Homo sapiens: one gene and its partners. The protein of the gene in region 1 purifies or fractionates together with the protein of each later gene. This does not show direct contact. Each region holds a gene or a part of one and is shown in the gene's direction. Other genes may lie near its edges.

Evidence for each region.
Region 2: the proteins of ST8SIA2 (region 1) and HS3ST1 purify together in Homo sapiens (affinity purification with mass spectrometry; one large-scale study listed by BioGRID and IntAct). This does not show direct contact.
Region 3: the proteins of ST8SIA2 (region 1) and PCDH1 purify together in Homo sapiens (affinity purification with mass spectrometry; one large-scale study listed by BioGRID and IntAct). This does not show direct contact.

Annotation. Positions count from the first base shown.
Region 1 is NC_000015.10:92,392,590-92,396,791, forward strand, and holds the start of ST8SIA2 (alpha-2,8-sialyltransferase 8B isoform 1 precursor), read left to right. Parts: upstream 1-1,291; 5' UTR 1,292-1,475; coding exon 1,476-1,573; intron 1,574-4,202. UniProt on the Homo sapiens protein: Catalyzes the transfer of a sialic acid from a CMP-linked sialic acid donor onto a terminal alpha-2,3-, alpha-2,6-, or alpha-2,8-linked sialic acid of an N-linked glycan acceptor through alpha-2,8-linkages.
Region 2 is NC_000004.12:11,395,267-11,398,037, reverse strand, and holds part of HS3ST1 (heparan sulfate glucosamine 3-O-sulfotransferase 1 precursor), read left to right. Parts: 3' UTR 1-2,771. UniProt on the Homo sapiens protein: Sulfotransferase that utilizes 3'-phospho-5'-adenylyl sulfate (PAPS) to catalyze the transfer of a sulfo group to position 3 of glucosamine residues in heparan. Catalyzes the rate limiting step in the biosynthesis of heparan sulfate (HSact).
Region 3 is NC_000005.10:141,871,768-141,875,416, reverse strand, and holds part of PCDH1 (protocadherin-1 isoform 2 precursor), read left to right. Parts: intron 1-3,649. UniProt on the Homo sapiens protein: May be involved in cell-cell interaction processes and in cell adhesion.

The DNA of each region.
Region 1 (4,202 bases):
ACTTTGGTAGAAAATCAGAAGGCCCTCTTACATCCCCGGGGGCGCCATGAAGGGACTTGGCTGCTGCCAGCCCCTCGCCAAACTCCTCTGAGTGGTCCAGGGGATAAGGCCGACACGCCCCTCCCATTCACTGGGGTGTGGTTTCCAGCACTTAGGACATTCCATGTAGCTTCTCCAACAGGACTCCTCCTCCCCACACTCAAACCCAAAGGACCCTTTCATAAACCAGATGATCATTTCTGGAAAGTTACATTTCTTAATTTCAGGAATTGTTCCAATTCGTGCAAAGAAAATAAAAGGTAATTATCTAATTCCAGTAAAACTTAATGGGGCCCTTCCCACCCCTGGCCAATGGTTGGTGTGAAATGTAATTTGACTTAAACTGTCTAAGGCTGTGAAAGTGTACAATATTCGGAAGGGTGGGGGGCATTACCCCTTGTGGGAGCCATATTTTTCTAGAAGGCATTTTGATCAAGACAGGCCTCCCGCGGTTATTGATCTTAGGGTCATTGAGAGTCCAAGAACTGGGGAGATGAAGGCCACCCGGCGTCAGCACCGCGAGGGCGGAGGGAAGGCGGGCGCTGAGTCTCCCATTGGGGTTCTAGCCGAGGGTTCCAGCCAGGACTGCGTGATCTGGGGGCAGCTCGGAGAGCTCTCCCGACCCAGTATCGGGTCTATAAATGGAGATAAAGATCAGCACCTGGAGGGAGTGGTTTCTCGAGGGCTGAGAGCCTCGCCCACAAACTGTAGTCAGCATCTTCACTGAAGTTGGCCTGTCTTGGATATTTCTTCTCTCCTCCCCTTCCCCCACCTCCCCTCCTAATTCATCAACTGCTGAAACATCTGCCTGGCTGAAACCGCCTTCTCGCCGCGCGCTGGGGGCTGTCCCCAGGTGTTGGTCTTTGTGTCGAGAAAACTTTGCGAGGAGGCGAGGGAGCTGGACAAAGAGCGGGCGAGGGAGGGCGTTTGCCAGCCTGAGGGGTGCGCCGGGCGGTGCGCGCACTTCCCTGGGCTCAGCTCCGTACCCGGTCGCTCGCGGTGGCCAGAGCCCAGTCTCTCTAGGCCAGGAGTGGCGTCCGGCTGCATCCCCGCGCCCTCGGGAGCTGAATAAAGCCAGGCGGGAGAAGCAAAGGCTAGCGCCTGGACGCTGGAGTTGGTGGGAGGAGGCGAGCAGAGGCGCGGAGCAAAGCTGTCAAACTGCGCGCGGAGCCGGGCGCGGGGCGGGGGAAGGGAGAGGAGGGAGGGAGGGGCAGGCGGGAGCCGGGAGGGAGCGAGCGGGCTCGCCGCGCCTGAGCAACCCCTGCCTGTCGCTGCCGCTGCCGCTGCCGCTGCCGCCGCCGGCCCGGACTCGTCCGGAGCGCAGGGTGTCTGCCCAGCTGCGCGCGGCGCGCGGAGGCTCCGGCGTCCGCCGCTGCGCCCTCCGGCCCCTGCTCCTCGCGCCGGCCCGCGTGGGTCCCGGCGGGCGCGAACCCACCATGCAGCTGCAGTTCCGGAGCTGGATGCTGGCCGCGCTCACGCTGCTCGTGGTCTTCCTCATCTTCGCAGACATCTCAGAGATCGAAGAAGAAATCGGGTAAATAGCTGCTCCCAGGCCCGTGCCACGAGCCCTGGCGGGATCTCTCCCTCCTTCTGTACTCTCCACCCTCCGACCCCCTTTGTGTGCGCCGCGCCCCGCTGTAGCTCCGCTGGAGAGATGGGGACGGTTTGGCAGAAGGTGGCGGCGACAGGGGCCCGGGACGGTTTGGGGAGAGGAGGGTGGGGGCGCGGCTGCTGTGGGGTGTCCCCGGGCGGGGTTCACGGGAAGCCCCCAGCTGGCCCGCGTCGGGAAGCGGACTCGCCCACCCTGCCCCCCTGCCTGGCGTGTCCAAGCGCAGTGTCGCCGGGGTCGAGGGAGGGCGCCGGGGAGTGTCTCGGGCGGGCGGAGGGGCCGAGAGTGGAGGGAGGCAGGAGTTTCTTTGTCTCCAGCACGGCCGCTTTCTCGCCTTGGCAAAGTGGGCAGGGGGCGCGCAGGGATCTCTGAGCTGGGGGAGGGGTTCCTGGGGCCGGAGCGGAGGGCGGGGTTCTGCATGGGCTACTGGGAAGCGGAATGTCCCCTGCACACACAGACAGGCACACGCGCCTCCCGCCGGCCCGGGAGCCCGGCGTAGGAGCTGGCACCACTAGAGAAGGGCTCGCATAGCTGGACTGAGACCCCCCGCCCTCGCCTGGCTTTGGACGTTCAGCCAAGCCACGGCAACCCCGGCGACCCTGGGTTCCTGTGCGCTCGCAGCGCGGAGACGGAGACATTTCGGGAAAGTCTGTACCGCCGCCCGGTGGGCTTCTGGGCCCTCAGGCGGGCGATCTGGCGCTTTTTTTCTCCCGACCTCGCCAGAGGTAGGGTGGGACCGCGAGCCCGGATCCTCCCGGCTCCGGACTTCCTGGAGTGCGCACTTGAGGCGCGGGACGCACCGGCTGTGTGTCCCAGGGGCTGAGACTCGCGCCCCGCCCCGCAGCCTTCGGCTCGCCGGGCCGGGCCCCTCTCCGGAACCTCCAAAGGGCGGTAGACGACAGGTGGGGAGGCAGCCGGGGTTCTGAGGAGGCCCGAGGAGAGCTTCCTGGCCCTGGGCAAGGGGAAGGTGAGGTCTCAAAGAGGGCAGAAGGTCTCTTCTTCTGTGGGATTTGTGCTCTGCCAGGCGCTCTTCTCGAGTCCCGCGCCGCGTGCGCCCCTCCTTTGTCCCATTTGTTACTTCATTTGTTATCTGTGCTAGTTGAGGGTCCGCCACACTGTCAGTCCCTCAAATGGGAGATGCCAGTCCTGGGCCCAGGCGGGATGCCGAGGCCCCAAGGACAAAAACTTGTGACAAGTGCCGCTTCCTGCTCTCATTTTCTCCCTGCCCCTGCCCATCTCCCTGGAATTCCTTCTGTGAACTCCGCTGGGCTTCCAGAACCCCTCTCCCTGCCTCTTTCTCCTCTCATTCTCGGTTTCCCCAAGAGCTCTGAAAACTTTCACAAATGCTGCGCAGTTAATACACAACGTGCCACCAATTCCCACGCAGAGATAAACATGCTACTTTTCATAGCTGCTCGCCTCAGAAACGTGGATTGGAAAGGAAATCGGGCAAGTCACGTCTTGGGGTAATGGAAGATGCGGTGAGGAGGGCCTTCCTCTAGGCTCTCCGGCTTCTGATTCCGGATGTGGGCACTGCCCGGCTCAGATCACTTGCTGACCTTTGCCCATGTGAGAGGGAAGGCCCGGCGCTGCCCATTGTCCTGTTATAAAAACATAAGTGCTGTGCTTATCCAGGCACCCCTAGGTCAGCCATTCACTGAATTCTTACCAAATACCTTCCACATGCTGGGAACTTTTAATTTTTAAAATGCAATCAGGAGATCACTTTGCACATAATGTTGCACTTTCTTGCCAAATGCACGGTGAAGCCTACGCTCCCCACATCAGGTTGTTCCCATATATGTACGCACCCCGGGGACTTGTCTCACTTGAGTGCTCCCTGCTTCTTTTTATCCTGTCTCTGCTGGGCCAATCCTAGGAAAAAACGGTCAAACAAGTACGATGTGTCACCTCCTGTGGCATCTTCCTTCCCTCTCTTGCCTCTCGTCCCAGGCTGACCACTGGCTTGACCAGTCCTGACCAGGCCTAAGACACCCTCTCTCCCAGGCTGATGTAGCTGCCTTAGGTCAACACTGCATATGCCTTTCGACTGGGATGGGCACTCTTGCCCCACCCACGGTCAGCCCCACACATGTTTAATCCAGAGGAATGGAGGCATATTTTGGGATTCACCATGGCTGGAGGAGTAAACACATGGGCAGAGCATGGGAATCCCAACAGCACCTTCTGTCTGCTTACAAGTGAGGGGTTTCTTTTTGTTTGTTTGTTTTTGTTTTTTTTTTTGTCTTTTCTTTTTTTCTTTTTCTTTTTTTTGAGACGGAGTCTCATTCTGTCGCCCAGGATGGAGTGCAGTGGCACAATCTCGGCTCACTGCAACCTCCGCCTCCCGGGTTCAAGCAATTCTCCTGTTTCAGCCTCCCGAGTAGCTGGGATTACAGGCACCTGCCACCACACCAGGCTAATTTTTGTATTTTTATTAGAGACGGGGTTTCACCATGTTGGCCAGGCTGGTCTCAATCACCTCAGGGGATCTGCCCACCTCAGCCTCCCAAAGTGCTGGGATTACAGGCGTGAGCCACCCCTCCCGGCACAA
Region 2 (2,771 bases), on another chromosome or scaffold:
TTGAAGGTAGCACCTAAGAGAACCACTGTACCTGCCCCCAGAGGAGTGGCTGGAGTTCAGTTTTACTTCTGCCCCTGAGCAGCCAGCTTGTTGGAGATGGTCACATAAACCCTTCTTATCCTCAGTTTTTTCATGCATTCTTCATGCAGTCAGCCTTTTACAGAATTAAACCCATTGGATTTTAATAAAAATAAAACATTCATTACAGTAAAAGAGAAAATACAAACAAGCAAAATAAACCGGCTTCCTGACATGGTTTATACCGCAGGAAAATGACAGAAATGGACGTTATTAATCATCTCCTACACTTAAGAACTCATTGAAATTTCTCCAAGCAACCCCAGGATGCAGATATTATTATGGAAATTTCAAAGAGGAGGAATTAGGCCCAGAGAACATGAGAAACTTGCCCAAGGTCACATTGACTATAAACTCAGGCTTAGAGGCTACTCAGAGCCAAAGCACAGGTTATTTATGTATTTAGTTTTTACCCAACTCTTTCTGAACTCAAAAGGAAAAGCCCAGACTCAGAGCCAGTTCTTCCTGACCTGACTTAACATTTCTTCCCAGGTGCCAAATATCTTCCATCCTAAGAGGTGTGTCCCAGATACAGGAAGGGCAAGAAGAAGCCTGCATTTTTCTCAGCAGTGTTATCAGGGAAGTGAGTCACCTTGGTACGTTTCAGCAGCTCCAGCCTGACCTGACCTTAGCATGGCCTATGCCCCACCCCATATCATGAACAGAGAGCAGAGAGGATGCCTTCCTCTTTAGAATCCATTGAAGTTGTCATTAAGCCATCATCTCCCCCAGAGGAAGTAGCAGAAATATTTACAGCAGGCCCCTGGTGGACATGGTACTTTTCAATAGGCAGAGAGCCTCCCTCTGCAGCACATCGTTGGATCTTGCTTTTACCATACTCCTTGAAGAGCTGAAGAAATAAGAGGGCCCAGCAAGGTTAAGTCAAGTTTCCAAGCCTGTTCAGGAATATGGTGACTGAAAGGAAACTGCAATGAGAGTCTCTGACTGAAGAAGATGCTCTTTGCAAACTGCCTGTAAATTCCTGTCCCCTGACAGGGATGGTCTGGTAGAAGCATGAACTGTGGATGCAAGAGGCAGCGGGGAGGAGTGGAGGAAGACAGGACCAGCACATGGAATATAATCTAGCTGCTGGGACTGGCATAGTCGATGGAGGCGGTGGTCCAGTGTAAAATGATCAGTGAATGTAAATTCAATATGTTTTCATTTGGGGGTGCAGAGTCGTGGCTAAAGGAATGTTCAAATGAGTCTACCATGAGCAAGGGATCAGAGGTCCTAGTGGCACTATCTGTTCATTCATTTTTGGTACAACCCCAGCCAGTCATTGAGAAGGTACACTGTGTAAGAAACCATCACTCCAGACTTACCCAAGGTATTTATTGCTAGATCTCACCAAGCACTGTCAAATTCAAAGGAGGCCCTGTAGTAGACCCTGGGCTGTCCTTACAGGGCCAAAATGCAGTGACTCAGGAGCCTAATAGCACCCGGTCCCTCCAAAACATGCCTTCTACCAATTCCATTAACAGAGACAGGTGTCAGTGGAAGGGGTGGGTCTCCTGTCCAGACCACCCCGGCCCGGGAGCAGCCTGGGGGATCTAGGTGGGTCCTTCCAGAGAGGCAAGTGAGAACAACTGAACCAAGCCTCAGCTATTAGATTTGGAATATTCACACACTTGACACTCCAGAGTCAGAACAGCCCCTTCCCTTTCCCTTCCTCCTGGAATCAGATAGGGTTGAAATCCTTTTAACACCATTTGGTTATCAGCTCACAACCTGAAGGTTTGCAAGTTTAGGAAAAGTGACATGCCTCTGAGCACAGGGTGCTTTACTCCTTCTGTGCTTGGAGGCTTACCCAACTGAAAGGAGATGGAGGGCAGGAGAGGCCGATGCCTAGCGTGCCTGCTGCTTACAGGGGTGGTGTCACAGGTCACCATTATTCATTAAAATTTTACTTTTTTGATCCCCTACCACATGCTCAACATGGTATTGAGTCCTCAAGAATATAAAAAGAAAATACAACAGGAACCAGTAGTCATTAACTGTTTGTTCTGGACTTTAATAAAAGTACAGAGGGTCTTGGAGTACAAAGGCAAAGACATTTAGCTGTGTATAGAATGGGTGGGGGAATGTGTTCCATGGTTTGGCATTCAGTTCAGCAACATTCCTGAGAGAAATCAACTAGCCCCCTTATAGAGAAGAGGAAACTGAGATTTAAAAAGTGGTCCTGGCCGGGTGTAGTGGCTCACGCCTGTAATCCCAGCACTTTGGGAGGCCAAGACAGGTGAATCACGAGGTCAGGAGTTCAAGACCAGCCTGACCAACATGGTGAAACCCCATCTCTACTAAAAATACAAAAATGTGCCAGGCATGGTGGCGAGTGCCTGTAATCCCAGCTACTCAGGACACTGAGGCAAGAGAACCACTTGAACCTGGCAGGTGGAGGTTGCAGGGGGCCGAGATGATGCCACTGCACTCCAGCCTGGGCAACAGAGCAAGACTCCATCTCAAAAAAAAAAAAAAAAAAAAAAGATAAATTAATAATAAAAAAATAAAAAAGTAATCCTGACTTCAAGTCATTTTTTTCAGAAGAAAGGATTCTTGCTCACTCCAGGGAAATAGTCCAGAAATGGAAAATGTTGACATCACAAATCACAAAAGAAGGTGAAAAATATCAGAGACCCTCTCCAGAATGTCATTTCTCAGAAATATTAAGAAATAGAGAATCTTCCCAGAGG
Region 3 (3,649 bases), on another chromosome or scaffold:
AGATTCTGTTCAACAATGTATTGAGCACCTTTTATCTGCCAGGGTCCATGGTGGGTGGTGAGGATGCAGTAGTAAGAGACATACCATCATTGCCTTCATAGGACTTACCAACCAGCGAGGGGATTGGCTTGTTTATTCATCGAACCAAGGAGCACCCACTGTGTGCCCGATGCTGGAAATAAAATGGTCTATTCAGCAATTAGAAGACTTAGAAAAAAAAATGATTTGTCCTTTACATGTAATGTAAATAGACCTTAATGTAATAGACCTTATAGGCATGAGATCTCATTTAATTCTCCCAAATAATTTCAAGAGGCAGGTTTCATTATTTCCATTTCACAGTATGGAAACAGGTTCAGAAAAGTAAATTCACTTGGTTAATGTCACACAGCTAGGAAGTGGTGGAGCGAGGGTTCTAACCCCAACGATCTGACATGCAGGTGCCCAGAAGCCCTGCAGAGGCTAATAGAGGGTTGTGGGAGAGAGGGGAGAGGAGCTGAGGTCTGCACACTTGCTCTCTGTGGGAGGCTTCTGTTCAGCTCCACCCCACGCAACCCCATTTTCTTCCCCTCTCCCCGCGACAGTCCGTTTGTCCCTTGGTGTTTTGTGCCCGCGGCAGTGACCGTTGTGTAACAGTGCTGGGGTGAGGGTGGGGAGTCAGAGCTGACCTGGCTACTGGGACAGTGGTGGCTGCCTCTGTGTGTTTTTTCTCTGGCCACAGCACTCAGCAAAATGGACCTTGGTCCCCGGGGTGGGCTGGAAGTGAAGTTTCCGGGTGAACTCTCACCTCTGTTCTCATCCCTTCCCAGATGTTGACACAGACAGTATTTCCTTCAGCTTTTCTGGGACTCCGTCCCCTCCTTATCCCTTACTCCTACACCCCTGACGGCACTTCTGCTCCTCTATCTGAGGGACATGGGTCCCTGCGCCTGTTCCCCCTCAGGCTCTGGCTTCTCAGGGTCCTGGGTGCCCATGTCACTGGGGGGAGGTAGGGCACCGTTGCCCAGGAAGGCAGCCAGGGCCCGGGGAAGGGCAGATAAGGCGCTGCATGTATCAAAGGCTGCTGTGTGGGATTAATGACTCCCAGTGCCCAACTGCTGGGGACAAAGTTCAGAGATGGTGGGAACACGGGTGAGGGAAGGCCTCCTTATTGCTGCTCCTGCCCTTCCAGGCCACCCTGGCTCTCTTCCTGCATTTCTACGGGCCCCTGGGTGAACAGCAGCAGCCTAGGAAGCCTGGGCTGGTTCATTCCTTGACCCTTAGGCCCACTGTTTCTTATTCCCTCCTTACGGGGCAAGGTTGGCAGTCCAGGAATGGTGGGGAGGCGGGTGTGACATAACAGGAATCAGATTCTAGCCTCAGATATTTCTGTTTCTTTCCCCCAGACTCTGGGATGTGAAGAGGCATTCTTGTTTCTCAAGTCCTGGTTCTTCCACATACTACTTCTGTGACTTAAGACAGTTTATTCTTTCTCAGCCCCCATTTGATCATCTGTAGTATGGGAAGGAGTGTAATAATAAATACTACCCATTTGAGAGGGTTGGGAGGAAAGAGATCATGTGTGTAAAATGCTTAGTACTGATAAAATCTTAGTGTTTGCTGAGATGATGATGATGATGAGTGATTATGATGGCAAAGGTGATGATAAAAGTTTGCAGGGGCTGGGCGCAGTGGCTCACGCCTGTAATCCCAGCACTTTGGGAGGCTGACGCAGGAGGATCACGAGGTCAGGAGATCAAGACCATCCTGGCTAACACGGTGAAACCCCGTCTCTACTAAAAATACAAAAAAAAAAAAAAAAAATTAGCTGGGCATGGTGGCGGGCGCCTGTAGTCCCAGCTACTCGGGAGGCTGAGGCAGGAGAATGGCGTGAACCTGGCAGGCGGAGCTTGCAGTGAGCCGGGATCGCGCCCCTGCACTCCAGCCTGGGCAACAGAGCAAGACTCCGTCTCAAGAAAAAAAAAACGTTTGCAGGACCGGGCCAGGCGCGGTGGCTCACGCCTGTAATCCTAGCACTTTGGGAGGCCGAGGCGGGCAGATCATGAGGTCAGGAGATCGAGACCATTGTGGCCAACACGGTGAAACCCCGTCTCTACTAAAATACAAAAAAAAAAAAAAAAAAATTTAGCCGGGCGTGGTGGCACGTGCCTGTAGTCCCAGCTACTTGGGAGGCTGAGGCAGGGGAATTGCTTGAACCCGAAAGGTGGAGGTTGCAGTGAGGCCAGATCGCACCACTGCACTCCAGCCTGGCAACGGAGTGAGACTCTGTCTCAAAAAAAAAAAAGAGTTTGCAGGACCTCAGGCTCTTTCTTAACTCCCTGGAATTATCTCAAAGTTGTACCCAGATGGTCCGACCATTGCATCACAATTGCTTGGGGGTTTCTCTAGGTCCCACCTCCTGAATAAAGATTCCTAAGGGTGGGGCCAGATAATCCTCATTTTGAAGAAACTCTCCAGATGCTTGAAAGGCCTAAGCCCTCTTCAACTCCTTTCCCCACTGTGAGCAACTCTCCCCCAACCCTGTTTTCCCCACATTCCTCCTACTTTCTGGGACCTTTCCCCAGCCCCGCCATCCCATACCTTCCTTGAGCTGGATATTATCCTGTGGTTCTCCTTCTCTTTCCAATTCAGAGGTTAGATACCACAGTCCTTAATTGGTTCTTTTGCTGGTTGAAGGTAAGACAACTCCTCAGGGTGAGAAAGAGCGTGTGGGGAGCGGAGGTAGTCTCACAAGCATGTGTGCCTGTTCTGCCTAGGAGGTTTGAAAGGTTATAGGGCCTCAGGTTGTGACTGTGAGATGGAGGAAGCCTGAGGCAGGGGCTTAATTCGTAGCTCTTGGAGTGGCCACACATCATTCGCCCTGACTGCCAGATCATGGCCCCCTGAATTAGCGGCTAAAATTTGTGAACAGTCATTTTTCCTGGAAAAATCTGTACCATGGTTTTATAAAATTCTTGAAGGAGGATGTGACCACAGAAGATTAACTATCTTAAGTATCCTCGATCTGGAGAGAACAGAGGCAAACAGTGACTGCCTTATTTATTCTCTTGGTCAGGTTTAGGGTAATTCCCGTGGGCTTCCCACATAACGCCTCACCTGCCAAGACTTTTGTAGAGAATTAGGGTGCACAGTGATACCACATTGTATATGCAGAGGAGGGTGGCAGCAGGATACAGTCCCATAAGAAAATGAGGTTCTCTGGTGATGGTCCTTTGACGATGTGTTTGGGTTGGGGTTGAAGTAGTCAGATGAGCCTTGTGCCAGGTCCATGCAGGTGGAGGGGGGGGGTGGGGGGTGGATCCAAATGGAGTACAGATAAATTCCTGCTTCCTTTAAAGAGATTAACATTCACACCAATCTGATAACGCCGCACACACTTTAGGGAGGGGCCTGTGCTTGGGGAAGGCCATACAGAGGAGGGGATGTGTTTGATTTATCTAAAGACTCTGTGCATTCAGTGAACATTTGCTGAGAGTCTACTATGTGCCCTAAACAGAGAAGACTTACATTTTACCCCAGGAAGTTCTTAGTGGTGTAGGGGAATCGGGTAAGTGAGCAAGTAAAAGAGCAGTGGTCACACAGCAAGTACCAGGAAAGGCTAAGCCTAGAGAGCAAAATAACAACAGTCATTCAAGAGCTGCCAAGTGCC